Linked DNA regions of Homo sapiens: all the other regions are reported to be linked to region 3. The links are microRNA targets in miRTarBase. Many come from high-throughput screens and were not tested one by one. Region 3 holds a microRNA gene; each other region holds the end of a gene's coding sequence. Distances are from middle to middle.
Evidence for each region. The annotated mature microRNA hsa-miR-5186 reads AGAGAUUGGUAGAAAUCAGGU and lies in region 3 at 3,039-3,059, opposite strand. An mRNA with a match to its seed (bases 2 to 7 or 8) in the 3' UTR can be bound and repressed. Matches are read on the target gene's strand: a 7mer-m8 pairs with bases 2 to 8, a 7mer-A1 pairs with bases 2 to 7 and ends in A, and an 8mer does both.

Region 1 (8,475 bases), not on the chromosome of region 3:
GTATTTTTAGTAGAGGTGGGGTTTCACGACCTTGCTCAGGCTGGTCTCGAACTCCTGACCTCAGGTGATCCACCTGCCTCGGCCTACCAAAGTGCTGGGATTATAGGAGTGAGCCACTGTGCCCGGCCCAGAGTTTTAATTTATTTGTTTAAAAAAAAAGTTGGCTGGGCCAACAGAGCGATACTCTATCTCAAAAAAAAAAAAAAAATTGTTGTGGGTACATAGTAGGTGTATATATTCATAAAGTAAATGAGATACTTTGATACAGACATGCAATGTGTAACAATCGCAACATGGAAAATGGGGTATTCATCCTCTCAAGCATTTTTTTGTATTTTTATTTTTTCTTTTTAATTACCCACACTACACAGACATACCCTCAAGCATTTATCCTTAATGTTACAAACAATCCAGTTATATAGTCTTTATTTTAAAATGTACAATTAAATTACAGACTATAGTCACCCTGTGTGCTATCACATACTATATTTTATTCTTTTTTGGACCCATTAACCATCCCTACCTACCCCTCACCCCCTTACTACCCCTTCCCAGCCTCTCATAACCATCCTTTTACTATTTCCAGGAATTCAACTGTTTTGATTTTTAGCTCCCACAAATATGTGAGAACATGTGAAGTTTGTCTTTCTGTGCCTGACTCTATCCACAGTTTTTGATTCAGAGTCTGGGGTGAAGACTGTATTTGTAACATCTAACATCGGAGATGATTTTGATGCTGCTGGTTGGGAACCATGTTTTTTTTTTTTTTTTTTTTTTTAAGACAGGGTCTTGCTCTGTCACCCAGGTTAGAGTGCAGAGGCATGATTGGCTCAATGCAGCCTTAACCTCCTGGGCTCAAGTGATCCTCCCACCTCAGCCTCCTGAGCAGATGGGACAGGTGGGCAGCATCAGTCTGATTTTTAATTTTTTTGTAGAGATGGGGTCTCACTATGTTGCCCAGGCTGGTCTCAAACTCCTGGGCTCAAAGGATCCTCCCAGAGTGTTGGAATTACAGGCGTGAGCCACTGTGCCTTGGCAGAACCACACTTCTTGCTGGGTGCAGTGGCTCATGCCTGTAATCCCAGCACTTTGGGAGGCCAAGGTGGGAGGATCGCTTGAGGTCAGGAGTTTGAGACAAGCCTGGGCAACATGGTGAAACCCCGTCTCTACCAAAAAGAGAAAAAATTAGCTGGGCATGGTGGCAGCTACTCAGGAGGCTGAGGTGGGACGATCGCTGGAGCCCAGGAGGCAGAAGTTGCGTGAGCTGATTGTAACACTGCAACTCTAACCTGGGTGATACAGTGAGACCCTTCACACACACACACACACACACACACACACACACACACACCCGCTTTCTCTAGGTCTATTAATTTACAGGAAATGCAGCATACAGGAGAATACACTTAATGACGCCATGAGATTGCAATCAGCAAAATCAAGACTGGGAAACTCTCCAGGACAATGACTTAGCTTCTCCAATAAACACACTGCAAGGGGACAAAGAGACTCTAGATTTAAAGAGAGTTTAGATGTCTTTAAAGAGCTATATAGTGCATCTACAGATAAAATGTCTAGGATTTCCTTCAAAATTATTTGGGAGAGGAAGTAGACAGGTATACATTGTTAAAGCTAGAGGAGCACAAGGGTGGTTCATTCCACTATTCTCACTGGTGTTTGAAACTTTGTATGACAAAAGTAACAGTAATGTGTTTAGTACACTCGGGCTGCTCATGAAGGACGAAAAAGTAGGGATAGTAGATACTTTAATACTTGGGCACCACATTCCACGTTTGGCATCTTTGTTTTGCCTTTTTCTCAAGTTGGTTAGAACAGTATTATTAGAGTTTAGCTATTTTTTTTTCTTTTTTTGAGACAGAGTCTTGCTCTGTTGCTCAGGCTGGAGTACAGTGGTGCAGTCTCTGCTCACTGTAAACCCCCCTCCTAGGTTCAGGCGTTTCTTTTGCCTTGGTCTCCAGGGTAGCGGGGATTACAGGCCTGCGCCACCACGCCCAGCTTTTTGTATTATTAGTAGAGATGGGGTTTCACCATGTTAGCCAGGCTGGTCTCCAACTGCTGATCTCAAGTGATCTGCCTGCCTTGGCCTCCTTTACAGGAATGAGCCATCACACCCGGAGAGTTTAGCTCTTCTATTTCAGAATGTTTTCCTAAATGCAGTTACTATTTAATGAGTGACTATGCCAAATGCTTTGATAATAGTATTTACTTTTCACAATATTAGCAGGTCTTGTTTTATAGATGAGGGTGCAACTTATTTGCCTCCCAATCCTTTTGGCCTTGGGCTAGGGGACTTGCTCTGCTTTCAGCAGTAATGGGGGTTCTATCTGATGCCATCAAAGCTTTGCCTTCAGCAGCTCTTAATCTCCAAATTGGTTCCCTCCTAAAGACAAAAATAAAAAACCACCTTCTTTAAACCTTACCTTTAAAAGTCTACTCCCTTAGCTGGGTGTGGTGGTGCACACTTGTCTCGGCAATTTGGGAGACTGAGGTGGGAGCATCGCTTGGGCCCATGATTGCACCACTGCACTCCAGCCTGGGTAACAGAGTGAGACTCCATCTCTTAAAAAACAGAAAACCTAAAGAAAACCCATATAGTGTACCTGCCCCCTCCTCCCCGCCACCCCTCCAAAGCAATTCCTTTATGGTAGAAGGCCAGGCAAGGTAGCTCACACCTGTAGTCCCAGCACTTTGGGAGGCCGAGGCGGGGGATCACCTGAGGTCAGGAGTTCGAGATCAGCCTGACCAACATGGAGAAACCCTGCCTCTATTAAAAAAATACAATCTTAGCTGGGCGTGGTGGCACATGCCTGTAATCCCAGCTACTCGGGAGGTTGAGGGAGGTGAATAGCTTCAGCCCAGGAGGTGGAGGTTGTGGTGAGCTGAGATTGCACCATCGCACTCCAGCCTGGGTAACAATAGTTAAACTCTGTCTCGTGGGGGGAAGAAAAGTTTATTTTGTAGGTTTTGCCCTCATCTTGGATTTGTCTCGTTTCTACATGACAGCATTTTGGGCAGGAATATCACAAGAATGAGACTCTGTCCTCGATGTATTATGTCCAGTGACCCATGTTAATAACCTGGATCACTATTAAGTCATTTTTTAAAATAATTTTGAGGGAGAGGAGGCTAACTGGAGGCTAGGTATATTAACTCCTCTTCAAAAAGTAACATGAAGAAAAAGCCTGAGGATGCATTAGAGATTTAGAGACTCAAGAACCATGACAACAAAATGCAACCAATGAATCTTGGACCAAGAGAAAAAATGTAAGGGACATTAAGGGACAACTGATGAAACTTCGGTATGAACTGTGTATCAGACAACAGTATTTTATCAGTTAATTTCCTGATTTTGATAATTCTGTAGTTACAGAAGATAATGGCCCTGTTCCCAGAAAACACATTGAAAAAAAATTTTTTTTGAGACAGGGTTTCACTCTGTCGCCCAGGCTGGAGTGCCATGGTGTTATCTTGGCTAACTGCAACCTCCGCCTCCTGGGTTCAAGCAATTCTTCTGTCTGTCTCAGTCTCCCAAGTAGTAGGACTACAAGCACGCAACACCATGCCTGGCTAATTTTTATATTTTTGGTGGAGACAGGGTTTCACCATGTTGGCCAGGCTGGTCTTGAATTCCTGAGCTCAGGTGATCCTCCTGTCTTGGCCTCCCAAAGTGCCGGGATTACAGGCATGAGCCACCGCACCCACTCTTCTAATTTTTGAACCATGATTCCTTTCTATTCAAAAGGAATAAAAAGTTAACGACTGTGTTAAGTGCTATACTGGGGGCCATCTGCAGGATTGCTCAAAGATAAACAGGCATATGTAAACAAGCTATATAGGATGTACGAAGACCAACTGCACAATTGTACTGACTTGTCGTTTCAGTAAATGGATGCATACATGTTCGGGATACTAATCTGTTATTCAAAATATGGTCACTGAGGAAACTCAAAGATTAGCATATAAATCGGTAATTACTACACTAGGTGCTCTATTGCAAGAACTCTAAGTTTTATTGTGTAATGTTGAATCTTGAAAGTAATTTTTAAATTCATGCTGATAGACAACTGAAAGGATTATTCACACTGTTGGTTCTGAAAAAAAATTTATCATACATTCATTCAACAGTAACCAGCCAGCCATTTAAAGCCGATCTCTGTATTACCATGTATTAAAGCAAACTGCAGACTACTACTCAGGGCATGAACACTGAAAACCTAAAAAGGCATTTTTATATGATCATAGAAATCTCTTGAGCAGATACAAGAACTGTTAACAGCAGCTGCATTAGCAAGTAGATTCCAAGGTATGGTCCAACCATGTATATTTGTAAATAAAATTGTATTTGTTATGGTACTCTCTTGTACTGTTCATATTCTTGACTTTTAATCTTCACATCCCATGCATGTTTTATCCCTAGTTTCATGGATGACACTGAAGCACAGTGATTAATGAGTTGCCCAACATAAACCATATACTAAATCCCAAACTCACGTTTCTGGGTAAGTGAACACAAGATCCTGTTCTCATACTCAAGACAGGAATGGCTTGCCAATGCAAACTCCAATTCAAAAAAACATTTGTTAAGAATCTGGTCCTAAGTGGGCATATGCAATAAACTCAAAACAAGCCTTTCCCTCAGTAAGTATTTTATTGAGATTTAAAGCACAAAATAGGTGAACAAATCGGGAGGAAGGTGGTAACACAGGAATGGGAACGTAAAAGTCAAAGTAGGCAGGACTCAAACTGGCCATAAAGGCACTACGGCATGTTCATAAACACCATCAAGTAAAAGAAAGGGGAATCAAGATGTTCTCACTTCTTTTCTGCTCCACCTTAATACTCCATCTAGCCACTGGTATGGAGCATGTCATCAACTCATTCTTCTCACAAGCTAGCAAGGGAATTAAACATTTTATCAGTCAACCCTATGCTCACCAAGTGAGCCAATGTTACACAGTGATTTTGTGCATCCAGTGACTGAGAACTACAGGCAAGGATAGGCCCTGACTGTTAATAAATTGGTCGTGGCTATTACTAGAAAATTATGGGTGCAGGCATTTACCTATACAATGACCTGCTTACTGTGGCAGCTAACAATATAGTCAAACCAGTCTATTACCATATGATGTCCTATTAACAAGAGAGCCCAGTTGAAGGATGTTTCATACTTTTAGAAAGCCTAATTTCTTACTGTAATATCCTCCCATCCCTCTTTTAAAAAGGCTGTAGTTCAAAAAGCTTTTATGTTCTTTCCCTGAAAACAAGAGAACTTTGGTCAAAGCCAATTTTTAAGAGTCATCACTTCTGCTGAGTAGGCAAAACAATGAACTATAACAACAGACATCATTTTCTTTCCTTAAATTCTGAGGTTTATGCTGGAAAAATAAACCCATTTCTTTATAAACATCTAATTAAATAAAGTATCAAAGAAAATAAGATAATGGAAGAAGCATCCGCCTTTTGGGGCACTATATTCCTAAGGTTGGGCTTTAAGATTTTTTAACAGGAAACCCAGGAATTTCTGAAAAACAAGGCCTTTTTCACATTACCAAGAACTCACAGCTACTCTGTGAATGCCCTAGATATTTGACTCAAATTTTTCACTCAATCTTATTAGGTATATTTCTGGATTATTTGAATCTACAAACCAACCCTAGAATATCATGCTTTCCAGTCACACCTGTGGCACAATGAGCAGTGTACGACCATGCCCCATCACAATCCAACCCTTGGTACCCTACATTGTGACACCTCCTAGAAAGGTATTAAAGCTGAGCCAATTAATCTATATTTTGATTTCAGACTAAGATTAATAAATGCTTTTAAATAAAGTAACTTTTAAGGTATCTGAACAAAGGGATGTAAGGTTAATTCACTTCTCAAACTGCAATTTCAACTCATCAGGCTTATGGATGTATGGACTAATTGCTAACCTAGTAACTCCTACAAATTTGCAGTATTCAAATTTGGTTTCCACAGTACTCATTACACTTTACTCGTAATAAAGTACAAAAGTTTTGCGTTTACCCATTTCACTGTTTTTCAAACCAATTACACAAAGCATTAAAATTTACAAGTATGATCTAACCAATTATCAAATAATCCCACTAACTACAAAGGGGACTGACTACTGGGTGGAACTTAACTGGCAACTGACTTTACTGAGATTAAGTGCCTGTTAAACATAATGATCTTTCAGCAGAAAATGCAGTATGTGCTTTTACACTTTGAATAAACTCAATTTCAGAACAAAAAGAGGCTACTTCCATTTCCACATGACAAACATTAAAGACAACTGAACCACTCTCAACACTAATTATGCTGAGAACTTCCAGAAAGTGGATTCTCTAAACAAGATCCCAAGTATTAGGAGCTATTTCTTAAATAGTTTAAATTTGCCTTTGAAAAAAGTTCCATTACTTAAAAGTATTAATTTAAGCAAAATCATGGAACACATTGACTAAAAAATACCTTTTATTTTTACTCAACTTGTTAAAGGGGCAGATAAAGACTTTGGCAAATTTGATTAACTGCACAAAATAATGTTATCCAAACTGAGTAATTTATTGCTGGTCTGAGGCTTGCCTTGTTTACACTTAAGTAGAATTTACGTTGTTTCCACAAATGGCAGATATCAACATTTAAAGGAATTTAATAGTGACCTATTCAATAAGGCAATCATCTTGGTAGCAAACTTTTATTTAAATCTTACATAACTCAAGCTTTATAAAAAGCCAACATAATTGAAAATTGGGTTCTCCCTCTAAAGCCTTAAGTATTCAAAGCTCAAAACAGTTAATTTAAAAATAAGCAAACAAATAAAACAAAAAAACCCTGCCAGCAGATCCTGCTGAAATACTAAAAAAAAAAAAAAAAAAAAAAAAAAAAAAAAAAAAACAACACTAAATGAGCTTAATCTTTACAAAAGTTACGTTAGCTCAAAAGCTATAAAATCAAAGTTATCTTAATTCTACAAAGAAGGGAGAGGGTCTTCATGCCACCATTTCCTTAGAGCCTCATCTTTTTCATCCAATTTGGCCACAAATCAAATTTCTGTGTGCCCCTGTTTTCAAGAGATTCCTCTTGCAGAAGAGGCCAAGTATAAACATGGAAGAGTAACTGCCTAAGTAGGAAAGTGTTCCATAATAATGTGCAAACAAGGAGTTCTGAGTTAATCTCTGGAACTCGACCTGGACCTTGATCTTGACTTTGAGCGAGATCTAGAACGGGATCTTGAAGTAGCTCTTTTTGGTGGAGGGGACACAGAACGGGCCTTTGAGGGTGGAACAGGTAGCGGCGAATTGGAACGGGACTGGCTCCTTGATCTGGATTTTGACTTTATATCACCCTTTCCATTTTCTTTAGGGGATCGGGACCGAGACCTGCTTCGAGATTTCTCATACTCATCCTTAGATCTGCTTCGAGAATGTGAATGGGAGCCCCGATCAGACTTGGGCTTAGATTTGCTCTTTGATCTAGATTTCCTGCCTTTTGATCGAGAACGTGATCGACCTTTGCTCCGCGACCTGGAACTGGACAAGGAAAGACCGATTTTCTCAATACTTAGTGAGAATGTACACATACTCCATAAACAAGTACGGTAATATTCACAGTGACTCAACACAACGTTATTTACCGGGAGCGACTTTTTGAGATACTTCGAGATCTACTGCGGCTGCTCCTGCGACTCCTACTTCGTGACCGTCTTCTAGATCGAGACCTATTAGGAGAAAAACAATGAAGTCTTAATCCCAATCCAACTTAAATACATCCGTGCCATCTGGCAAAAATAGATAAGCCAAAGAATAATGTTTTTCTTTACTACGAAATTAAATACACTGTTCAAAACATCCAGAAAAGAACGCAATGATGCACAGCCAAAACAAACTAAAAGCTGGCTTTAATTCAAGTAGGCAACAATTGACATCACTCAATTACTCCCTTTTTATTGGCAAATATTGTTTCCTTCCCACAGTGTCCTTCAACAAGTTACCTGGATCTGCTTCCAGAGTAAGATCGCCTATGGCTTGTGCGTGGCTTATCTTCAATAAGCCTAATATTTCTGCCATTTATTTCTGTGCCATCCAGTTTGTCCAAAGCACGCTTCATGTCAGAGTAGGAGCGAAACTCAATTACACCCTCATTTGTTCGTTCCTTGTGGGCATCCGCATAGGTTACTTCACCTGCTTGTCGCATAAAATCCTGAAAGACAAGATTGGTCAGACTCGGAAATCTTAAAACATCTATATACCATAATAAATTCCCAGAAATAAGAATATAAAAGGAGTTTACTTTAAAGCATTAGTCATATCATTTCTATCTTGAATTACAAAACATACCTTTAAATCTTGCCAACTGCACCGACTAGAAAGATTTTCTACAATAAGCCTGTATTCTGTACGAACAGGTGGTCCGTATTTGTCTCTGCCAGATGTTCTCCGACTGCTGTATCCA
Region 2 (8,475 bases), 42 Mb from region 3:
TCCCCATGGACATGCCATGGAGACATTTTCCCATTGTCTTGGTGATTAACATTCAGCTCCTTGTTACTTATGGCAAATTGCTGTAGTAGGCTTGAATTTCTTCCCAGAAAATTGGTTTTTCTTTTCTATTGCATCATCAGCCTGCAAATTTTCCAAAATTTTACACTCTGCTTTCTCTTGAATGCTTTGCTGCTTAGACAGTTCTTCTGCCAGATATCCTAAATCATTTTTCTCTCAAGTTCAAAGCTCCACAGATCTCTAGGGCAGGGGCAAAATGCCAACCAGTCTCTTTGCTAAAGCATACCAAGAGTCACCTTTGCTCTAGTTCCCAAGAAGTTCCTCATCTCCAGCTAAGACCACCTCAGCCTGGACTTCATTGTCCATATTACTATCATCATTTTGGTGACAACCATTCAACAGGTCTCTAGAAAGTTCCAAACTTTCCCACATCTTGCTGTCTTCTTCTGAGCCCTCCAAACTGTTCCACCCTCTGCCTGTTACTCAGTTCCAAAATTGCTTCCACATTTTCAGGTATCCTTATAGTAGCGCCCTACCATTTCGGTACCAATTTACTGTAGTAGTTTGTTCTCACACTGCTATGAAGAAATACCTGAGACTGGGTAACTTATAAAAGAAAGGGATTTAGCTGACTTACAGTTCCACATTGCTGGGGAGGCCTCAGGAAACTTACAATCATGGCAGAAGGTAAAGGATGCACTTTTTTTTTTTTTTTTGAGACAGAGTCTCACTCTGTTGCCCAGGCTGGAGTGCAGTGGCAGATCTCAGCTCACTGCAACCTCTGCCTCCTGGCTTGAAGCAATTCTCCTGTCCCAGCCTCCTAAGCATCTGGGACTACAGGCGCCTTCATGCCCAGCTAATGTTTGTATTTTTAGTGGAGACGGGGTTTTGCCATATTGGCCAGGCTGGTTTTGAACTCCTGACTTCAGATGATCCACCCGCCTTGGCCTCCTAAAGTGCTGGGATTACAGACATGAGCCACCGCACCCAGCTGCAGGCACCTTCTTCACAGGGCAGCACGATGGAGTGAGTGCCAGCAGGAGAAATGCCAGACACTTATAAAACCATCAGATCTCATGAGACTCACTCACTGTCACAAGAACAGCATGAGGGAAACTGCCCCCATGATCCAATTACCTCTACGTGGTCCCACCCTTGACACATGAGGATTACACTTCAAGGTGAGATTTGGGTGGGGACACAGAGCCAAACCATATCAGCTATTGAGGTGGGAAAGTGAGGACTGAGTGCTGAGAGTAATAGGAAATTCAGTTTGCTGAAGTAGAGAAGGCAATAAGGGAAAAGATCTGAGATGAAACCAGATGTGGCCAGTGGAGAAGGACTTGAAATCCTTAGTAAGCAATGTGTACTTTATCTGGTAGACACTTCAGACCATTAAGGGTTTCTGGCCATGGACATGACATCATCAGAGTTGTGCAATAGAATAGATAGAGACTTCGAGAAGAAAAAATAGAAGAAAGATCTCAGTCAGGGAGACTACTTAAGAGGCTCTTGTAATCAGGCAGGTGGTGACAACCAAGGGCTTAGAGGAGAGGAAGTTCTGCACAAGAGACACTGCCAAGAGAGGGTCTAGGACTTAGGAATTGCTTGTAGCAGGCCCAGGTGGGACTTTTCATTGCATATATGTGTTTGTAATTACAAAGGTAAAAGCCATCATTTACCCACAAAACTTCCTCGATATGATGCAAAACCATCACCCTGGGCTTGCAGCACAATATGAATGGTGCCTCCTAGGACTGTACAGTGTGAAATACGTACAACACATGTGAGACCTCTCTGCAGTGTAACCCCCTTTAACCACAATTTTAAACTCAGCAGAATGTCCACGGTAAGTATGTGTGCAGCCTTTATCACAGGTCAGTGACTTATCAGATTTTTCTTGGCATTGAAACACTTCGAAGTCAAGACAGCAAGGAAAAGAGCTGGGAGAGTCTGGATGACTCTTTGAGTGCTTTTCATCCAACCATGGACAATGCTCTGCAGCATCCTGCATTCTTTTCCCTGACAGATTAGCTAATTTAATTAGCAGAATCTGGCTAGATGTGAAAAATGTAAAGAACCTTGATTTGGAAGTCAGTAGGTCTAGATTATAGACTCAGCTCATTCATTTCCCCATTATGGGTTCTTGAACAAGTAGTACTCGTTCAGCCTTGGTCATCTGAAGGGTGGCACAGGCATTATGCAGAAAACAAACCACGGTAGTAGAGCAAGAGCAACATTAGACAGAGTGGTCAGGGAAGGCTTCTTGGAAGAAGTGACAAGTGAGCTGAAATCTGAAGGAGAAGGAATCAGGAATGGCAACAGGGGGTTGGTGGCGGGCAGCATTCAAGGCAGAGAGGATGGCAAATGCAGTCTTCCTGAGGATAGAGCAAGCTCAGAGTGTTTGACAAAGCCATGTGGCTCACTCCTAAGGCTCTTTCATCAACTCCGGGAGAGTTGTGTTTTGTTGTTAATTTTATCTTTGTTTAATTTTGGAGAAACTCACTTTACTAATAAAGTTTAAAGGCCATTGTTAACAAGTCTAATGGAAACCAAAGGGCAGACAGAATGTTATAGGGCAGCAGTTTTCCAAATGTTTATGCATAGAGAAGTGAGCACAGTTCAAAGCCAAAAGAAAATCTATAGGAACCTGAAAAGCTGTGCCAAGCAAGTCTGAATAAAGATCAAGCAGGGATATAGTTTTCTGTTTCTGGAGACTGAAGTCAGAAACCAGAGCTTTATCCAATCACATGAAATGGGCTCACAGGGCTCTGGTGTTATGATTTTCCTCCCTCAGCTGTGGGAGTTGGCCTTTTCTGTGATTGATGGTCAGGTTCAAGAGAACTTCCATGAAACACCAAAATCTCTTTCTGGAAGAAACTGTGCTCATTATGGCAATTACATTGGACATTTGCCTCGCTGTCGTCTTGTTTTTCAATGCTACGGTTTTTCTCTTCTTTTTTCATTCAGGAAAAACAACATAGGAGAGTGACACAGCAGGGATCTCGCTGATAAAGGACCTGCATCTGAATCCAGCTCCTCCATCCATGGGCCATGTGTCCTGGTTGCTGAGACATCTGGAGAGCCTTGTACCTCATCAAAAGAAGAGAGACAGTAATCCTTGCCTTTCTTTCCTCCTAAGGTTGTTAACGAGGCTTAAATGAGAGAACAAGGATGAAAGTATTTTGTAAACTCTAATGCCCTGTGTATAAAGCAGAGAATAATAGCATCTGTGGTGTTAGAAAATGCCTGGAACTTTGTAAAGATGTTGTTTGATTCAACATTACTGGAGTAAACCACACCATTAGACAGAATGAAAGACTCCACCGCAGAGAGAGAGACTGATTTTTATAACAACTGAATTTATTATAGCATAAACTAAATACAAAGCTCTGAATAAATAATCGTTTTTTTCAGTCATCACATCTGCAGGTGTGTATGTGAACATTTCCATAAGCACATAAGGATACAGATGTCACAGACATATTTAGTGAGGGAAGCCCAGAGTCACGGTTCTCTGTGGGTAAGAGCTAGATGCCTTGAGATGAACATACAGGGCACCGTCTCAAATGATTTGGACTATGTGACTGTGTTCGTTTCTCCTTCAGACTCTGCTCAAGAAAGTGTATTGATAACAGGTTGCTCCGCCCTCAAGTTTAGGGCACTCTCCCACGCTCTTTCATGCAAAGTTTTTTAACACCTCTCTTTAAGAAAATTCACAAATCAGAAGTATTACCCCAGCTTCAATCTGACAATCAGGACCCCTACTCTGCCCCTCTTTCCTAGGATCTTATCTCCATTAGGGGTCCCCTTTCAAGGTACAGGGCAATTGAGTCTATATGTCCACACAATCGGATCTGACAAGGCTGGGAGCCCTCCCTCCAGAGCCCATCCTCCCATGAGTGTCTGTCTGGTATTCTGTGTGGGTAGTAGTAGAAAATAGTTCACATCTGGTGGCTCATGTCTGTAATCCCGGCACTTTGGGAGGCCGAGGCGGGCGGATCACGAGGTCAGGAGATTGAAACCACCCTGGCTAACATGATGAAACCCCATCTCTACTAAAAATACAAAAAATTAGCCGGGCATGGTGGCAGACCTGTAGTCCCAGCTACTTGGGAGGCTGAGGCAGGAGAATGGTGTGAATCCGGGAGGCGGAGCTGGCAGTGAGCCGAGATTGTGCCACTGCACTCTAGCCTGGGCAACAGAGTGAGACTCCATCTCAAAAAAAAAAAAAAAAAAAAAAGGTTCACATCACAGCATAAGACTGAGACACTGGGTGTATCAAGCTTGAAAGAGATCTTGCAGGTAATTGAGTTTCATCTGATACTTGACTTCCTTCTCTACTTGGCCCTTGAATAGCCACTTGTTCCTCCAATGTCCTAGAGTACATTCCACTGCTATCAGTGCTGGCTGTTAGGACAGTGGTTAGGGCAGATGGCCTGAAGCCATCCCCACTGTGATCTTTACCCATTTGTCCTGATTTTGCCTTCTCATGCCACCTGGCACAAGTAGGATCCTTCTTTCTCAGGAAAACCCTTCACAGTCCCCTGACTGTTTTCTTTCCAGGCTGGGCACTCCCTGTTCCTTCAATTACTGCTTCTAAGATGTAGTTAATCCCAGGAATACAGTCTTCAAAATGAGTCTCTTTTCCCAAAGATTTTATGGCTGCTTGACTAGTGGAGGACTAGATTCTTTTCTTCCTGTTCCCTGCCAGCCTTTGCTAGTGATAGAATCACTTAGGATCAAGGCAAGAGCAACTCAAAGTCTCAGAAAGACAGACAATCATTTTTTTGTTTTGTTTTGTTTTGTTTTTAATACACCTCTAGCCCAGGCCTGGCAGGATGCCTGGCATTCATTTGAACAGAGGGCCTGGTATTAGCAAAGGGTTGCCCATTCTTTGCTTGACTGTGAGATCACACTAAGCAACCTGCCCTGCTGGAACTCTGGAATTTGGAAGTATTTGGCAGCAATATAAGGTTTGCTCAGAAGATCTGTATTTGAGGCCTAGATCTGCTCTTGCCATTACTGAATCTCAGCTTTCTCATCTGTATGGTGGAGATGATAAGCCCTTCCTTGTTCAGTCATGGGACAATTGGTACCATTCAGGTGAGTTAGTGGAGGTGAATGCACTTAGCAAAGGGCACATTTAAGTATGAACTGTGCAGGCTGATCTTGCTCATGACTAGGTCACAGACCATCTCTAGCTTGCCCCTGCCTACAACCCTCTACTTTTGGAAAATGAGAAACACTTTTAGAGAAGGACATTCAGAACTGCCATATCATTGCTGAGGCTGGCTTTGCAAAAGGAAACATTTCTTTCTGTACCAAAAAAGACAGTGATTCTGCAGTCTTGAAACACTAAAATATCTTCACGCCCTATTTTAAAACCAGAAGTAACAGGGTACCCTCATGGCTGGGAGACACCATGTTCCTAGAATCAGCTGCAATCATAGAGCCATCAGCCATGCTCAAGAGCTCAGTTAGGGGGAAGGAATGCTTGCAAATGCTATTGATAAGTTCCAAAGCCAGCCTGGGCCAGGACACTTATCCCCTGATCAGAACATTCACCTAGGATTTGATGCTCATAATACAAATTTTGCTTTTGCCTTAAAATATTATATGTAGGTGTGCTCCTAGAGTTCAGTGTTGTCTCCTGAGGTAACAGAAACCTGAGTCTTCCTTGTGCTGAACAAATCAAATATAACCAAATTGTAATAGTGACAAAATAAGGACAATTTTAGTTTTCTGGAAACTCAAGCCACAAACTTTAAAAAAAAAATGTACTAGTTGTGTAAGAACTCCCATCAATAGTGCCATATAATGCTGTAGCATGAGACTAATGTTTCTCAAAAATAATAAAGCAGAGGAGTGAAAATTTCTGGAGTTGGCCATGTGACATGAGAGATTCCTAAAACATAGGATAAGTTACTGGGGTTAGGAAAAGTGGGCTGTAGTGGACAGCACTCGTGCTTTCTGATCTGTTATTTTCCTCTCCTTCCCAGGACTACGTTCCAGACCAACTCTATCATTTGTGGGGCCTGGTACAAAATGAAAATATGGGGACCCCTGTTCAAAAATTAAGAATTTTAAGATGGAAACAGCAGAGTGTTAAAGCCAAGTGTGGGGACCTTCTAAGCATGGGGCCCTGTGTAGTGACAGCTCATAAGCCCATGAAGCATCCCTAAACACAGGAGACTGCACTTTCCAGCTCCCTGGCCAAATCCTTGACTAATGAGATATGAGTAGGGAAAGCAATGTGTGCCACTTTTGGGGTGAGGCAGTGAAGAGCCCACACGTGATCTCCAGTCTATTCCTTCCCCCATCACAGTCAACACACAGTCCTTGCATCGAGCTGATGGAGCCATCAGGTTGAAGCAGTCACTGCTGTAAGAATGGCAGTTCCAGAGTGTCACCTGGATCACGAAAGAAGCACTTGTGTGTTAAGGCACTGATATCTGAGAGTTGTTTTTTATTGCAGCATAGGCTAAGCTTATCCTTAACAATATGTTGGGTAAGGCCAGAAACAGAAGAAAAAGCCTCAAATCTGAAAAGTACTACAGAGAAAAGGAACCCAGACAGTAAAGATTGGTGTAATGTTTCCCACGCATTAGTTTTTCCATCGATGAAGTAAAAATTCAAAAATTACAACTCCGTGAGTATACACAGTACTACTTCCCCTCAACTCATTTTTATAAAAAGGAAAGTATTGTCCTGTCCTAAGAGGAAAGATCACATATTTTTCCCCTTTAGCCTGCTTGTCTCTTGGCCCATAGAAATTCTTGGCCCATTCTTGCCTTCACTGAATGCCTCTAATACCTTCAGAAGCCAAGAGGAAAGCACTCTTCTGGGTCAATGTTCTTCTCTGTAGACAGTATTTTATCAAACAGACTTTAGTTTGTCACCATGATTTGATAGGTAGCCCCAAAACTCCAGCTGATGTTACAAGAGTCTCATTTCTTAAAATCAATGAAACTGGTCCCTTTTGTCATTGTTTCTCTGTAATATCAACTTGGATATCACATGTCCTTCAGAGTTGTTCTTCATTGCTCTCAAATACTGGATTGCTGTAAGACACTCCTCTGCCACACTCCGGCATGTCAGAGTGGGAGGTTTGGTTTAGCGGGGGCCAACTAGGGTCATTTGCCAAGTCCCTCTGCCATATCCGATACTGGCTTTTTGACTGATAGCCGAAACATCTTTTAATCATCATCCACAGGGCTCGATTTTCAATAACAGCCTCCTGCAAAATAAAATAATTACTTTTTACAAGCAAGGGTTGAGTGTTTTGAGGCTACAGCCCTCCACAGGCCATCATAAGTCACTACTGCAATGGTTGCTTAGATCCAGCTTGACAAAGAGCTTGACCACTGGACCAATCTAAGGTGGTTTCATTGGACAGGTATTGGTTTCTCAAACGTTTCTACTTAAGTAACTCCTGTGGGAGAAGTAAGAGGTACAACATTTCAAGACTCTGGGAACATAACTTGAAATGGCTTGCCTCAAAAATGAAGTTTCTTTTGAATCTCACATCTAAATTGAATTTAAAATCATTCAAATTCTATGTTTCACTCTATAGCACATCTATATTTTGTTTAATATAAAATGACATTAAAATTACTACTAAATACTAAACACAATTGACCCTATATAAAGATGTGGCCCATGTATGACATGTTTTTGATATATCCTGACATATCACTGCATATTTAATTTCACACGGGCCAGTCTTGGAGTTGAACAGATCTGGATTTAGGTCCCAGTTCTGACACCTATTATGGGCAAATTAGTTACTCTATCCATGTCTCCGTGATTAGAATAATCCCTTCCTTATGTTTGTTGTAAGGCTTATATAACTCCCTTTACAATGCAGGGCAGGGCAGGGCATAGCTCTCTCCCTTTGCCTACCCTTTGGAACTACTCATTTAACAAATGGCTATGCACTGTGGTCCTGTTCACACATGCCTCTAACCTTCACCTTCACTGAAATACAGTATTAAGATTACAAAAGACATGTCTCTTTGAAAACATTTTGCAATGCCATTTTATTTCATGAGTTAGAGTGAGCCTTGAATAGAGCCCAAGTTATAACTTATAATTCATGAGAGGTTATCATATTAATTTTCCACTTTTATCATGTTTGCTCACAAAGATTGACCATCTTAGAGGTTATTGTGAAAGAAACAAAGAAAAAATATGGGACGTGAAACTGTCCCACAGAATTAGAACTGATTTTCATGTCTATCTTTGCTAATTTGAAAGAGTTAATTCTGTGAGATTCTATAAGGAACTTTGCCAGATATAGTAGTTTTCCTAAAATCTACCCATTTTTGCCATTTAGGTTCCACTGCCCATGAAAGGATAGAGAACAGCCAGTCTGCATTATTCCTGTGATAACTGACCATCTGCTGGCTGCGGGGCTGTTAAAGATCCATATAACCGTCTCAGCCTCTTGGAAAC
Region 3 (7,000 bases):
TGGACAGGAAAAGTGCTACCACTTGTAAAGATCATGGAGTTTATATAAAAATGTTCATTTAACCCCCTCCACCTAGCAACCTCCACCTAGCAAACTCCATTTAACCCAAAACATAGGGCCTCAATCCTCTGCATGACCTGCATTCTAAGGGATGGGCCAGGGATTCATATGTTCTTCATAGAGAAGGAGTGAATCTCTGGGTTGGCCACTCCCGGATTCCTTAGCTCAGAACTCCTAACACACATTTTTCTTAGACGGTAGGTCATTCATAGGGTATGCTTGAGTTAATGCTCTCAGGTGTGTCTGCCATATATCTTCTCACCCTGCGGCCCTCTAGGAGAGGGAATAAACAGCCTTGACCGTGAGAGTGACTTTCTTCCCATTTCTCCTACCTGGTACTGCTTGCTAAGGCCCGTACCTCTGCACCTCATGTCCCAGGGCATCCTGCCTACACTTTAGGCATCAACTAACTAGAATAACAAAATAATAAAATGTCCTAACTTGGGCCTTCTTAATTTGAGGTATGTGAATGGGCTTCAGGAAATCCTGAATCTAATAAAAAGCTAAGGACTCTAGGGAGAGAGTTCAGTTTTCCATGAGCTTCACTGCCAAGTAAGACAAATAACACGTTTATGGATATATAAAAGAGACCTCAGAAGCCATCAAGCCATCAGATACTCAATTGTCCCTGACAACAACTTGCATTTTTTCCTTCTGTTAGAATTATATCCAAGTGCTGGAGAGTTGTCACCAACAACAGTAATATTCACTTGGACATTTAGCTCTAGTTTAAAGCACTGGAGAGAATTTGGTTTCCTGTAGTTGAATTTGCAGCGTTTAAAAAAAATATTAGCCTGCCTTATGATATTTTATAAGTATTTAGGAAGTAAAATTTTGGTTGAACAAAAGCCATAATTTATTTAACAAATATTTATATAGGGCTTACTATATGCTAGGCACTGTTTTAAATGCTTTATAATAATTAAGTCATTGAATTGTCAGAGAACTACCTATGAGGTAAGTGCTGTTCTTATATCCATTTCACAGGTGAGGAAACTGAGGCACAGACAGGTTGGGGAAGCAATCCAAATGAAGACATCAGAGGGTATTCACCCAGCAAGAGGCAGAACTAAGATCTAAATTCAGGCAGTCTGGATCCAGCATTTATGTTCCTAAACACATCTTTGCTCGCTTCCTGTTATGAGTGTGAAAAGAATATTCTGTTTCATAGAAGATGATCATCATCAGGTTTTACCACAAACCTTGCATTGGCTTTAGGAGTAAAACATAAATAGCTATATTTTTTCTAATTTCTTTATGTTAGTTCTAATAAACAATGTATTAAATACATATTTTTAGGGCATTACATGCATATTTAATTTGACCAAGCTGATATTATCGGGTTTCATACTCCTTTTTTGCATCAGTACACACATTCAATTTTATATTTGACTTTTTTTTTAATTGCACAGGGAGCCAATTGGCAGCTTTGGATCAAATTGGCTTACATATATGTTTTGGCCAGCATGACGTTTAAGAATTTATTTCCTTCCTTCCTTCCTTCCTTCCTCTCTTTGTTTCCTCCTTTCTTTCTTTTTTTCTTTGACAACATTTACAAATTGGGAAATTGACCATGAAAGTCTAAATTTCTGGCTTCTTTTTGAAAAGACAGAAGGAAGCATTGGGTTTGCATTCAGGCATGGAAATATTAGGCTGGACTGAGAAGTGGCTGACCTTTTAGATGAAGTTTGTGTTCCCCAGTTGGCCATAGTTTTTACCAGTTTGCTTTGCTTGATATCTGCATGCATTTGGGTTACGGCAGTTGAATGAGGTATGCATGTCCTTAGAGGCCAAGAAACAATTTACTTACTGACTGAGCTTTAGCATGAGAGAGCATAATGACATGTGAGTTACCGGTGAATCAATTACAAGAGGTACCCAAAGGTAAGCGTGCAGTTGAAAGTTTCATATACAAGTGGTTGTAAATAAATAGCCTATAACTAAAAAGTAAGAATCATGGTAATGGTTAAATGTTCATTGAATACATACTAAGCACAAGATTTCTTATAGGTATCAGTCCCTTTAACTCTTGTAACAAGCCTAGGAAGTAGAAAACTGAGACAGAGGCAAGCTAAGTAACTTGTGCAAGATCACCAGCTAATAAACAGCGCAGTTAGGACTTCAGTCAGGCAATCTGGTTCTGGAATCTGTGGCTTATATTATGCTATACTTTCTCTCTAAAAACTCTGAAAGAACTCTCTAGTACTGGCAGAGAATGGGATTTACTGGTTAATTCATATGATGGTTTGACAATTGCTGTGTGAATTATCAATTGTTAGGAGGTAAGACCAGTTGAGAACTTTAAGCAGTACTTCACTGGGGTTTGGCAAATTGGTAGAGAGACCTTGAATCTAGAATCTAGTGCTTGACTTTATAGGCCCAGAAACCATATTTCACCCATTTGTAAAAATCATAATATAAAATCACCAGTATGTTTGTAACCCAGAAGTACAAAAAGTGAATAAGGAATTTGAGATGCCATTATATACAGAGGTGAGTGGTAAGGTCTGGTTTACTGGCATCCTGGGAGCTCCTGGCCAGAGCAGAAGGTGAACATTGTCAAAATTGAAACAAGGGATCAAGAAAGCCAGGCCTGCCTCCAGGTTGAGGTAAATAGTTCAAATTATGAAGTTCAAGCAGCTACAGAATGATCTGTTCCAGGGGTTCAAAACTTTTTTGTGCATCAGACTCACCTGGGGGAAGTTATAAAAACAAACAAACATAGAAATGTTCTGCTTTATATTTTTAGACCTACTAAAGCACCTACCCTGGAGTTCTAGTGAGTTACTGAGCTAATTCTGTTGCTTCTGGCCCACTGATTGGTATTTGAGAAACACTGTTCTAGTTGGAATTTGCCTTTTGAGAACGTTAATGCATAGTATCAGATAGATACGAGAGTGATAGATTAAGATGATAGCTATGATTCCTGTATTAATTAATGCATGAAAGTGTTAGCCAGCTTATGGCATGACCCTCTCACCTGATTTCTACCAATCTCTCCCCAGAAAGAAATCAGCTGAGGAAAGGTTGGTAGAAATCAGGTGAGAGGGTCAAGTCATAAGCTGGCTGAGTTGGGGAGTAGGCAGGGGTCCAGTCCTGGGAGAATCAGTGCAGAAAGCAACTGAGGCAGTGCCAATGTTTAATGAGAGGCTTATAAAATTGCCACAAAGTGAGGCCCTAGCTACATGTCATGAGAACTCCCTGGCAGAGGGGAGAAAGCAAATTTGGATTAGAATGGGAGGTATCAGCTAGAAAATCAGAAATCTGACCAAATAATGATAAACATGATAGTTTATGAATTAGGAAGCAGGGAAGTGAAACCCTACCCCACAAATGATAGATTAGGAAAGATTTGAGATGAATAGTAGAAAAGATAGTGCATAAGGTCTCCTCTGCTCTCCCCAGAACTGAGGGATGATTAAAGTTAATAGCATTTGTTGGGTTCTACTTAATAAGTACAACTTTTTGGATTTATTAAACCAGTTGGCATTGGTTGTGTTATGCTATAACAAACTCCAAATCTCAGTGGCTAACAAGGAAGTTGACTTCTTGTTCTTCTGACAACCCATGTGTTGTCCCTGCTTTGGGTCCCAGGCTGATAGAATAGTCGCTATCAGGAGGATGCTACCATGGCAGGGACAAAGAGAGCTCAGAGGAAATCATGCCAAGAGATAAACATTCAACAGGAAAGTGGCATACATTGTTTGTGCTTTCAGTTCATTGGCCAGAATAGTTACATGGCCTCCACCAACCACTGGGAGCCATAGAGTGCTATGTGCCGGAGGGCAGAGAGCTGGGAATATTTAGTGAGCAGCATTCGGTACTACCATCTTTCCCTCTGAATAGGTTAACAGCCACAAGTCCTGTCACAATTTTTAGCAATTTCTTCAATGTCAAGAAGAATTATATTTCTTAGCTAACAGAGGTGGTGTAGTTTCAGGGTGCCTGCCTGGCCTATCTACAGCACTGTCAGCTCCATGCTCACCCTTGCTGAAGAGATGAGTCTCTCTGTTCAAGTTCGTCTAATGTCATAGCCTTTTCCCTGATTGGACCAGGGACCAACACCTATCCAGGTGGCTGTCAATCTGTTGGCTAGCCTGTAGGCAAATGTATTTTCTGAGACACAGAGTCTCTAGTCAAATGGATGTGGGCCTATGAAGTAAATGGGTCTGTAGACTTGGGCCCTGGGCATTTTGATCCTGTCTGTGGACAGTAGCCAATGATCATAGATGAGGAAGATTATATGCAGTTGAGACAAAGAGAGAGAAACTTCTATCTTCAGTGGTTCCCTGGATCTCAGCTCCTATTCCTGGGAGATTCACCTCTGCTTCATTTTTTGTGAAATGGCTTTATGGCCTTATAATAAATATTCATTTTATTTGAGCCACTTTATTATCCATATGAATAAATTGAGAAGCCTAGTCACTCTGCCTCTGCTGAGAGTATCATCTGTAAACCAGGACTGTAGAAATTCTGGGACTCGTGCTAGGGTGTATAGTTGGGAACTAACAAGAAAAACTTTCACTGTAAACCTACTTGAACTTTATTTTCTTATTTTCTGTATTCCTGATGCTCTGGCATCTTGGGCCTCACAGATCTGGAGGGATGGCCTCTCCCAGCATTAGTTAATTCCTGCAGATATCAAACAGTGTTACCTGGGAGGGTCTCTTTTATATGCAAACTAAGCAATTCAAAGCCTACTGTAACTAGCCCCCTACCTCTGTGGGACCCTTCCACTCCAGGCCAATAGTTTCTTGCCCTAATCAGCCCAGGGCGAGGTGCTAGACAATTCCAAACAGCTCCTACACCCCAGAGCCTGCTGAAATGATTCAACAAGACAATTCTAAACCTGCTTAGCCTATTTTCCTGCCTTGCCCATTCCTTTCCACAAAACTGCAGTAAAGGCGCTGACCCCTGCTTTTCCCCTGTGCCCCCTGCCTGGCTTCCACAAGCGACTTCCCTGCATTGCTGTGCCTCCTATTTCTAGGGAACTGTGAGTGCAAACACCTTCTTCCTTCATGACAGTCATTGTCAGGCTCACGTCTTACTATAAGTGATCAAAACAAACCCCAGTACATTTTAAAACAAAGCCTCTCTCTCTGTTTTCTTCTGGGCCTCAATCTTTGGGTACCTACTAGTTTATTTGTCAGAAGAGTAAAGACCCTCTGTTCTGGTAGGTGGTCCTCTCAGATGTCTAAATTATTAGCTGTCTAGTCTACTGCCACAGAACATATACAATAGAACAAAAAAAGTACTTTTTCCTCTTTAATCCTGTATTTATGATTATTATAATAAATTATCCTTATTTCTAAGCATATGTTTGGTAAAAAGTCAGTACTAATTGTCACAGGCACACTGTTTTACTGGACAAAGCTTGAAAACACATGGACACGTGCCTCCTCCAGACACTGTGCAAACCAAAATCCTTTTATTATGACAACAAAACAATGACCTCATTTCTTTCAGAATTTAATTATCGGTATTACAATTCTCTTGTTAGGACTTTAAATGGGGTCTGGGACACTACTAGATAGTGTTTGGCTTGAGGACACAGAAATGCCTGAATCACGATTTGATTTATAATATCTCCCTAGGGACGGCTCACACAGAGTTCTCTTTCTTTATAAAACCCTGCTTCACCCCTGTGTGTAATAAGCTGACATTCAAGCACATAGCATGTCTGTCAGAAATATCCACCTCCCTTTAGTCTTTGAACATCATGGTGGGGGAGGATTTAGTTTTAGTATAGCAACACTACCCTCCAACCCTCCCATGCAATAGAAAAAGTGTATCCTAGCAATTTTGACTTCCAGACACTGGATTGTCTCTTTTCTGGTAAAGGAAGAATGGGCTGCTGAAGCTCCATTTACTAGGTAAGACACCCTTATGACTGTTCTCAGGTGTATTTGTCAGAGTGTGTAGTCATGAAACCAAACTATGTTAAATATTTCCAGCAGAAAGAAACTTAATATAGGGAATCAATAGATTACAGCAAAGTGCAGAATGCTACTGTTGACGTCACAGTCATTGCACAGCCCCCGAAAAGAAGAATAACGGAGGAGTATGAAGTCTGAGGTAGCCGAACCTAGCAACTGCTGCTAGTCTGCCACCAGCATTTCTATTGCAACAATACATTCTGCCTCCTTTCCACCTGTATTTAATTTGAGACCGAATCTTGCTCTGTTGTGCAGGCTGGAGGGCAGTGGCAAGATCTTGACTCACTGCAACCTCCATCCACTGGATTCAAGCAATTCTCCTGCCTCAGCCTCCCTAGTAGCTGGGATTACAGGTATGCGCTACCACATCCGGCAAAGTTTTGTAGTTTTAGTAGAGACGGGGTGTCGCCATGTTGGCCAGGCTGGTCTTGAACCCCTGATCTTAAGAGATCCACCCACCTCAGCCTTCTATAGTGCCAGAATTACAGGCATGAGCCACTGTGCCCGGCCTTTCCATCTTTTGAATATCACTTGTGTGCCTCTCATTTGTTATCTCTACTATAACTGATGGGGTGGGATTGTAGGAAATGTAGTTCCCAGGCTTCCTGCCCCATGATACCAGAAAAGAGTGTAAAAGGGGCAAAAGTGATGCTAAGTGCTGAGATAATCTGTCACACCATTTAAGTAGGGGTATTGCAATGCCTTGGCTTTCAGGGACAAATGTGTTCTACAGGCTAGAGATTTAAAATGCAGCCACAAAGTCCTGCCCTGGTTCAAGGGCAGGAAATACAGACTCCATCTCTAGATAATAGAAATATTAAAGAATTTGTGAATATATTTTCAATTGATCATGGCATTATAACTATTTTTTAATCTTTTTTTTAAATTATACTTTAAGTTCTAGAGTACAGGTGCACAGCGTGCAGGTTTGTTACGTATGTATACATGCGCCATGTTGGTTTGCTGCACCCATTAACTCATCATTTACATTAGGTATTTCTCCT
Region 4 (8,260 bases), not on the chromosome of region 3:
TGTTCTACTTTCTTTCTGTCTCTGAATTTGACTACTCCAGGTACTTCATCTAAGTGGAATCATTAAGTATTTGTCTTTTAGTGACTGGCTTCTTTCTTTCAGAATTATGTTCTTAAGGTTCATCTATATTGTAGCATGTGTCAGAATCTCCTTCCTTGTTAAGGCTGAAGCATACTCATTTGTTTATCATCTGACCTATAAAAATTATTGGGTGTGCTTTATGAAGGGGACACACAAAAGGCTTTTACGAACATATTGTCTGTGGAGCTTGCTGTGTGGAGACAACTTTTGGGTGTGGGGGATTATCTAATCAGAGTTCTGACAGTATCTGGGTCAAGACTATCCCTCTTCCTGTATACCCTCCTCCTTGCAAAGAGGCCAGGCTTGTGTGCGTATCAGGCAGTGTGGAGCTGTGCAGGAGGTCAGCCTCATGTCATGTGCTGCTCTTTCTTCCAGGTACCCTGCTGACTGCTCACTCCCCAACTCCTGTCGCCCCCCACCCGGTCACTGTGCCCACGTACCGGGCCCCAGGAACGCCCACTTACAGCTATGTGCCCCCTCAGTGGTGATCACCTGCAAATGTAAGTGACCAGGGAAGGCTGGGCTAGCCTTTGATGAAAGGGCATTTCCATGGGACAGTGGCAAATTTACCACATATTTAAGCACTAACGAGGAAAGTGTGCCTGACCCTGGATCCAGAGGCAATGTAGTGTTTAAATTTTTTGTTTTTATTGAGACATTACAGAGTAGAAGGAAGGAAGGAACCATTGAATACCTACTGTTGACACTGTCCATCTTGAGCCTTGCCTGGAATGTGCTCTAACCCCCCACCTGCCTGCTACAGGAAATAGGGCTCCAGTTGCAATTGGGGGTCTCTAGGAAGGAAGTGAGAACCAGGTCCAGCAGTTTTGCCCATTGCTGCCCTTTCCGACCCTGCTGGGCCTCATCCTACTTGAGATTTTGGAATAGCGGTGCCGGAAGAGCTCTGTGTGACTGAGTGTCTGTCTTCCTTTCTGCAGGTTTGAGGACGGAGCTGTGCAGTCACATTATTGGGGATTCCACAGCTGGTGCTGCAGGCCTTGCGCCTCCAACCAGGACTTTCTTCTTAATGCTCTCGACACTTAGCTAAACACGACTATATCCCGGCCCAGCAGGCCCCAGCGCCGTTAGTCTCCAGCTGACTCTGTGGGTTGGTCTTAAAGCAAATTCTGTTTTGTGGACTGCCTGGCAATTTTTTAGCTAACTGTAATGATAAAAAGGGAGTATTAATCTATTCTGAATCATATCTAGTTGAATGCATGTTTAAAAAAACAAACACAAAAAGCTTGCTCAATCTACCTGCAGTGACTGATGCAAAACCATCATATGCAAAATCCAAAGGAATGGAAACGTATTTTACAACTTGTATCACTAATGCACTGTTGTAATGTATGCAAAGTCTTACAGTTATAAGTGTTAAAGTGAATTTCTTCATAGAGCATCTGAAATATCTTAGATGATTCTTCAACCTTTTGGGGTTGATGTGGGTTGCCAGTTAGGGATGTGGACATTTTAGTTTTCAGCGACCTGTTTCTTTGGCACTGACTGTCCTGGGAGGGAGTTGCGAGGTTTGGGAGAGAGTAGGGAAGCCACAGCTGCTTGGGTGCAGCTGGTTCATGGACATCCCTTTGAGTTTAGGCTTGGTGGAGTCAGTGGAACAGGGACATGCTTAAAGCTCATCATGAAAGATTATGGTAGTGTGGCCAGTGAAATTTGGGGCGAGGGGGGTGGTTTATGTGTCAGCAAAGCAGTTTCTCTGCTATCTAAATTTTCATTACAGTTCTCTTAGAGAGATGATGTTTTTATATGTCTTTATTGGAAAAGTCCTATGTAAAACTAAATTATTTTCCTGGGATGGAAGAAATGTGAAAGAGAAACAGCCATGCTTGCAGGAGGTATTGTCCTCTGCTTTATTTAGCTTAGAAAATCATTCCTTTTTTTTTTTTTTTCCTGGAGAAATGTTTGAATCAGCTGAAAACAGGTAGGCATTGCTGTTTTTCCCCAACAAAGAAGGGCAAAGGTTTCAGCTGTATGTTATGAAGAAAGTGGTATATTTAAGAATGAGTTAAAAGGGAACAAAACTTTATTTAAAATTCCTCCAATTTCTTGTAGAAAGGCAGGGCCGTGGATATGTCTGGAAATGTAGAAACCTGTAGCTGCTTCTGGGATCACCCACCTGATGGTGGTGACTTGTCTGCTGAGGCCGGCTGGAGGGGACGCTTAGAGATGGGGCGAGGGGGAGGCCAGTGTCTGTTGTCTGCGAGCCTCTCCTGCCATCTCTTTTGCAGCTGAGGGCACTTGGCACAAAGCAAGCACAGACAGCAGAGAGGGCCAGGCAGTGCTGGAGTGCGTTTGCTGGCAGGGTTTATTGTGGGAGAGGAATTTGAGTTTAGGATCTGAATCTTGTACATAAGAAATGAAAAGGCTTCCCTCCACCCCGCCCCCAAAATATGCCCGTCCTGTATCCATGAGAGTGCATGTCGGTTCTCAGTGAGGGTCAGAGTGGGGGTGGGGGATGTAAGGCCTGGGTCCCTTTCAGCGGCCTCTAGGGCAGGAGCGTGCGTCTTCTTCCCAGTGCAGTGGTGGTTTGAGTGCTGTGGGCTCTGGTGGGGAGGGGGCTCTGCTCCTCTTCATTTGCTGGTAGCTGGGTCAGGGCACTGGCGCCCAGTGAGGATGCCCACTAGCATTCTGCCCCAGTTGGTTGGTGGGGGGACACCTGACCACTGAGCCTTTGGTAACCTTATTTTTTATAGTAAGTACTTCTTATAATTTTCTTTTTCACATCTTATTTTATAAGAAGTTTAGGAATATTTTTGCATGGATCATTGTAAACAGCAGATTCTTTATTCCTGATGTCTATTAACATAGAATGTTTACTGATAAGTACTTTAAATTGCTTCATGAGCACTTAATCCATCTTAGTGTCTATGTGTGGGGGCAGACATTTACCGCAGGCACACAGTTTGTGCCCCTTTCTTCAAGTCTCTGTTGGTAATTCCATCTGTTTAGTGGATGGTTGGCAGGATTAGTAGGTTCTAACGGTTCCAGGGGTTCAGCTGACCAAGTAGCAGAGAAGTCTTTTTTCCCAATTGAGTGCTAATAGATTAGGATAAAATACTCACAATGTTAGTGTATGCTTTTAAAAAGCCCCACACAACAAAATGGAAACATACATGTACAACTCCTGTGAGGGCTGGAGTCTTGGGGTTCAGGAGGAGGTTAGAAGTTACAGGCATCTCTTCAGGCTTGCTTGGTACTTGGCACACACAGGATGGTGTTTTAAAGAGTGGGCTGCACCCCCCACACGCCATTTACATCAGCTTCATAAACACTTTTCTTCCTCCCTGTAACTTAACCTTTTTTCCCTTTTATGAAGTTGAGAGGCTTTATGAAATAAGTTTGCATTGCACATCCGTGCAGAAATCTTTCTGACTTTGAAATTTTTAGGACGTCAGCTGTCAGATACGAAAGGTAGATATCAGGTAAGAATCTGGACTTAGGAAATAGTCACAAAACTGTCATAGGTTGTAATTTTATCAACATTCGCTTCTAGTAAAATTAAAGTCAATTAAGAAATAGAACTTGGGTCAAAATTCTGTTACAAAGCTTCATAATTTGTCCCGAAGCATATGGTGGAGCATTCTGAGAAATTTGCTTTTTGTGTGTTTGACATTCCTAATTTGGGAGTCCTTCAGCTGAATTACTATTCTTTTAGAAGTTGAGACAGCAGGTAAGCAAAGGACCTAGTTCATGTAAACATGGACATCATGATGGCTATTTAAAAAATATTTGTTCTACACCTTCTCCCCTGAGGCTTGGGGAGTGTGTTCAGCCGCTGCAGTTTCTCTGCTCATGGAGGTCTTGTTTGGATCTGTGCTGGCGGCTGAGCATTTAGTGTGAGCCAGTGACCCATGAACTTGCCGCTCTGTGAGGGCCAGAGTCAGGGCCAGTCATGGTAATGGGCCTGAAGGCACTTCCAGAACCTTTTATGTCTCTCGTGAGCCATCTGTTAAGAACGTTCTTCTTGGTGTGGTTTGTAGGCCTACCTGTCGCTATTCTGGGAAACCTTCTTGAGTGCTATGCAAATGTGTTCACAGGCAATGGGGGTGGTCCTGAGCCTTGGGGTGGGCACCTGGTCAGTGAGTGTCTTGCCCTTCCCCAGCTGGGCATACAGTACCTTGCTCTTTCTGGTGGCATCATCTGGCTGTGATGAATGAGGTCTAGGAAATAATTTGCATGTGTCTTGGGGGACACAACAGTAACGAGAGGAAATACATTATTACAGCAACTTGCGACGTACTAATACCTGTCAGTGTTGGCCCCCGTAAGGTATGTAAGGCACCTGTGAGTGCCAGTGAGTGCTGGTGAAAGGCCAACATGTACTAGTTATGTAAGTATTGGTGTCTGCTTTAAAAAAGGAGACCCAGACTTCACCTGTCCTTTTTAAACATTTGAGAACAGTGTTACTCTGAGCAGTTGGGCCACCTTCACCTTATCCGACAGCTGACTGTTGGATGTGTCCATTGTCGCCAGTTTGGCTGTTGCCCGGACAGGACAGGACCTCCATTGGGCGCAGCAGCAGGTGGCAGGGGTGTGGCTTGAGGTGGGTGGCAGCGTCTGGTCCTCCTCTCTGGTGCTTTCTGAGAGGGTCTCTAAAGCAGAGTGTGGTTGGCCTGGGGGAAGGCAGAGCACGTATTTCTCCCCTCTAGTACCTCTGCATTTGTGAGTGTTCCCTCTGGCTTTCTGAAGGGCAGCAGACTCTTGAGTATACTGCAGAGGACATGCTTTATCAGTAGGTCCTGAGGGCTCCAGGGGCTCAACTGACCAAGTAACACAGAAGTTGGGGTATGTGGCCTATTTGGGTCGGAAACTGCATGTTTCAGAAAGTTTGTCTCTTTTTCCTACTCATTATTTGAAGAAGAGAGAGCCTGTGGGGATAGCCTTATCTTGGTCCACAGGACTGAAGTGAAGTCACTTGGGAAGGGGAGACAGAGGATGAGCGGCGTCTGTGTAGGGACCCCCCCCCGGGCCTGCAGAAGGGTGGTGTGCTCCCAGGACTGGCATGACAGGTGTCTCCTCCTCACCACAGGCTGTGCCCATGAGTCCCTGTGCAGACCAGTGGGCAAGGCAGCTGGGCCAGATCTCAGGCCAGCCGTTTGTGCTCCTAGCAGGGTTGCTGTGCTGGCCACACGGAGAGGCCCTAGAGAGCCTCATGGATTGTAACTAAAGAAGAAACGGTTCCTTTTTGTTTTTTTAAAAATGATTTTTAAATACCGTTTTTTACACCGTTCTCTCGGTACTTTTTTTAAGCTAAGTCAGCATTGTCTTCCAGTGTTAAAGGCATCCCTCACCTCTGCATTGAACTTACGTATCCATGCCAAGGAATGGAATTTCCATCCTGAGCCAGTTCAGTTAGGTGTCAATTGATACTATTTTAATTTTTTATGCAATCTGATGAGATGAGCTCAGATTTAAAAATCTCAAAAGCACGTTTATTGTAACAAGAATTGTTATGTATTAATACTGCAGTTTTCAATAAAGATTGACTTGTGTTGCATATTGTGGTTTTCATGATTTCTCCATATGGGTTTTTGTCTAGAGGTAGCATGGCCTGACTGGGAGGTGCTGGGGCTTCTCTCAAGTTGGGAGATTGCCAGGGGTTTTGAGAAGAAGACCACCATGGCGTCCAGCCCCAGTGACCTTGGCAGTGCTGGAGTGTGGTGGAGGCAGCAGGTTGCAGGGGACCATTTTCCCAAGTGGGACAGGGAGGGAAGCAGCACCATGCTCCCCTTCTGGCTTCTGTGGCCAGGGTCAGAAGACCCTGGGAAGACACGTTCTTCCTCATTTCACCAGGGATGCTGAGGCCCAGAAAGATTACTGACTACTCACCCACCAAACTCACGTGGGCCAGCTCCAGTCAAACAAACACAGGGAAGCACTGGTTTCTGGGTCTTGAGTGCAAGGGAGGGCAGAGCTACCTGTATTCCCCATCAGCAACCAGCATGGCCTGGCCCTGCTCGCCTTAGGCGAACAACTGCAGCCAGCCCCGCCTCAGCCTATCATCTCCACTAAATCCCCGAGGGTGTGATCTGCGACAGGTGAGCCCCCACCCCACCTTTAGAGGCTGCTGGCCACAGGAAAATGCACGCACACCCACAGAAAACGGGCTAGCAGCCAGGTTACTTTTCATAAATTTATTTATGAAATTAAATGTGGTTTCTGGCTTGGAGAAGGAATAGTGCAAGAGTGACTGTCCATGCTGCTGAATCCTGTGGGCTCCACGCCAGCTCGCCAGGCCCTGGCTCTGCTCCTGGCGCCCCTTGGCAGGACAGGGCGCCATCTCCACACACCCGCTGCCTGGGCTGTGGGTCAGTCCTGTGTGCTGAGCCACAGAATTCGGTCTCTCTCTTATGGCTTCTCACGCTCACGAGCGTAAGGCAATCTTCTGTGTCACTAAGAATCAATTCTTTTTCTCCATTGTTTGTTGTTAGAAAAACAAGATGCCAAAATCCAAACAAAACCAGGAACGAGGTGGTTCTGGAGCTACCGCACAGCAGCAGGCAGACTGACCACACTCCCGACTGGGAGTATGCAGCCGACTGCACCGTCTTGTCCTTTTCCGCTACACACACACACACAAGTGAAGAGGGTGTCCAGCAGCCAGCGGTGTCTTGAGGGGCTGGGAGGCGAAGGGCGGGCTCCGGGCGCAACACAAGGGTGTGGAATTCCTGGCTTCTGCCCTCCCAAGTGGCAAGCTGCCTGGCACCACTGGCCGGGCTGGGGACTTGGAGAACTAGAGGGCAGAGGGGCACATGGCCTGGCATTGCAGGCCACAGAAGGCCAGAGAGTCCTGCCCAGAGGAAATGAAAGGAGGATTAGGTTTCCAGAGAAGAGGGTCCCACGCAGGTAGCGCCTTCTCCCCAGCTGGGCCTGGGCTGAGCTGCGGTTTCCCCGCTCCAGCAGTGAGGCCCTACACAGGTCCAGAGGGCGGATGGGGCCCAAGCTGCAGCGGCGGTGTGGCGAGTGCGGGGTCTGCCCCCTTGCTGGTCTCTTCAGGGCACCAGGAGCAGGGAAAAAGACAACAGGAGTACAGACCTGGCACGTCTTGGTGGCACAAGCAACTCCCCAGCCCATCCCTGCTCACTTGCAGGCAGAGGAAGGCCAGGCCGAGTGGGCCTCGGGGAAGAAAAACTGGGGGCCACTGGCAGGAAGGCCCAGCAGGTGCTGTCAGGCAGGGACCAGTTCACTTGCGGAAGGGTGCCAGCCGGCTGATGCTGTGCCAGAAGGTAGATGGCTTGCGCCTGGGCTCCGCCAGCACCAGGACCTGCTGCTGGGGCCGGTTGCTGGGCAGGGCTGGGTGCTTCTGGCGCGTCAGGTAGCAGGGCCGGCCAACAGCTGAACAGGGAGAGACAGCAGAGGGTCATGGGTGCCCAGGGCAGAGTGCCACCCCAGCTGTTGGGGACAGCATGGGGTCCGTCCCAGGGCTCTGCTTCAGAGCCGCCGTAGGAGGCAGTTTTGCCACACAGGACTTGCTCCTGGAGAGCTGACCACATCCAAGAGCTCAGGCTGCCTGGGGTCTCTGGCCTGGGCCTGGCCTCCTGCAGCAGCCTGAAGAGGGGGGTGGCCTGTGCAAAGGCATGTGATGTTTCAGGGGCATGGCTCTCTGTAGAAATGGGGAAAGCAGCTCCATCCCTACACCAACCCCAGATGCCTGTCAGGAAGGAACCCTGGGGAAACAAGCATTGTCACCAATGGCCCTGATCTGGGGGAGCCAAGGTGTTGAGAGTAAGAATGTCAACCATATACTGACCCAGGCTTCCCCAGTGGCCCCTTATTACCAACCTTTGGGAACAAACAGCTGCAAAGGGCAGTGGGCCCCCCTCAGGCCTGGTGGCTAGCTGGCTTGGCTTTGTGGTTCAGAGAAGGGAATGATGTCAGCAGGGTAAGGACCGGGCAGCCGAGGAGGTGGGGCTGCTGTCCGCCTACCTTTGGGCTTCCCTGTGACCTGCTGCTTGCTGGCATTCAGCATGGCCTGCTTCCTCTGCAGTTCAGTGATGGAGAAGCCTGAGGAAGGGGCACAGGTGAGGGCGCTGCCCCACTTCGTGGCCCCAGGTGCAGTTCCCTGCACACCTGCACCTTCCTGGTGCCCAGGGTCTCATCATGTACTGGGGACTCAGTACTGGCCACAGCGGGGACTGTTGCCCATTCTGCACAGTCAGCC

Region 1: miRTarBase lists SRSF6 as a target of hsa-miR-5186. Seed matches in the 3' UTR shown: 7mer-A1 at 6,184-6,190 and 7mer-A1 at 4,673-4,679.
Region 2: miRTarBase lists ATP13A4 as a target of hsa-miR-5186. Seed matches in the 3' UTR shown: 7mer-m8 at 4,189-4,195 and 7mer-m8 at 4,033-4,039.
Region 4: miRTarBase lists FAM168B as a target of hsa-miR-5186. Seed matches in the 3' UTR shown: 7mer-A1 at 5,516-5,522.

Annotation. Positions count from the first base shown.
Region 1 is chr20:43,459,781-43,468,255 of GRCh38, reverse strand. SRSF6 (serine and arginine rich splicing factor 6) reads right to left here. Exons shown (of 6, transcript NM_006275.6): 3 at 8,361-8,475; 4 at 8,015-8,223; 5 at 7,658-7,741; 6 at 4,013-7,553. The coding sequence ends at 7,193. Among named protein-coding and RNA genes, the nearest start is that of SRSF6, 6.1 kb to the right of the region's middle.
Region 2 is chr3:193,395,607-193,404,081 of GRCh38, forward strand. ATP13A4 (ATPase 13A4) reads right to left here. Exons shown (of 30, transcript NM_032279.4): 30 at 3,361-7,258. The coding sequence ends at 7,046. Among named protein-coding and RNA genes, the nearest start is that of ATP13A5, 21 kb to the left of the region's middle.
Region 3 is chr3:151,562,866-151,569,865 of GRCh38, forward strand. It overlaps MIR5186 (microRNA 5186), which reads right to left and starts at 3,130; the gene lies at 3,011-3,130. All of the region lies in intron 1 of LINC02066 (long intergenic non-protein coding RNA 2066), which reads left to right. It also overlaps a transcript of IGSF10 not described here.
Region 4 is chr2:131,045,212-131,053,471 of GRCh38, reverse strand. It overlaps FAM168B (family with sequence similarity 168 member B), which reads left to right. Exons shown (of 7, transcript NM_001009993.4): 6 at 457-581; 7 at 1,020-5,596. The coding sequence ends at 569. ARHGEF4 (Rho guanine nucleotide exchange factor 4) reads right to left here. Exons shown (of 14, transcript NM_001367493.1): 13 at 8,026-8,103; 14 at 6,219-7,434. The coding sequence ends at 7,283. Among named protein-coding and RNA genes, the nearest start is that of SMIM39, 14 kb to the right of the region's middle.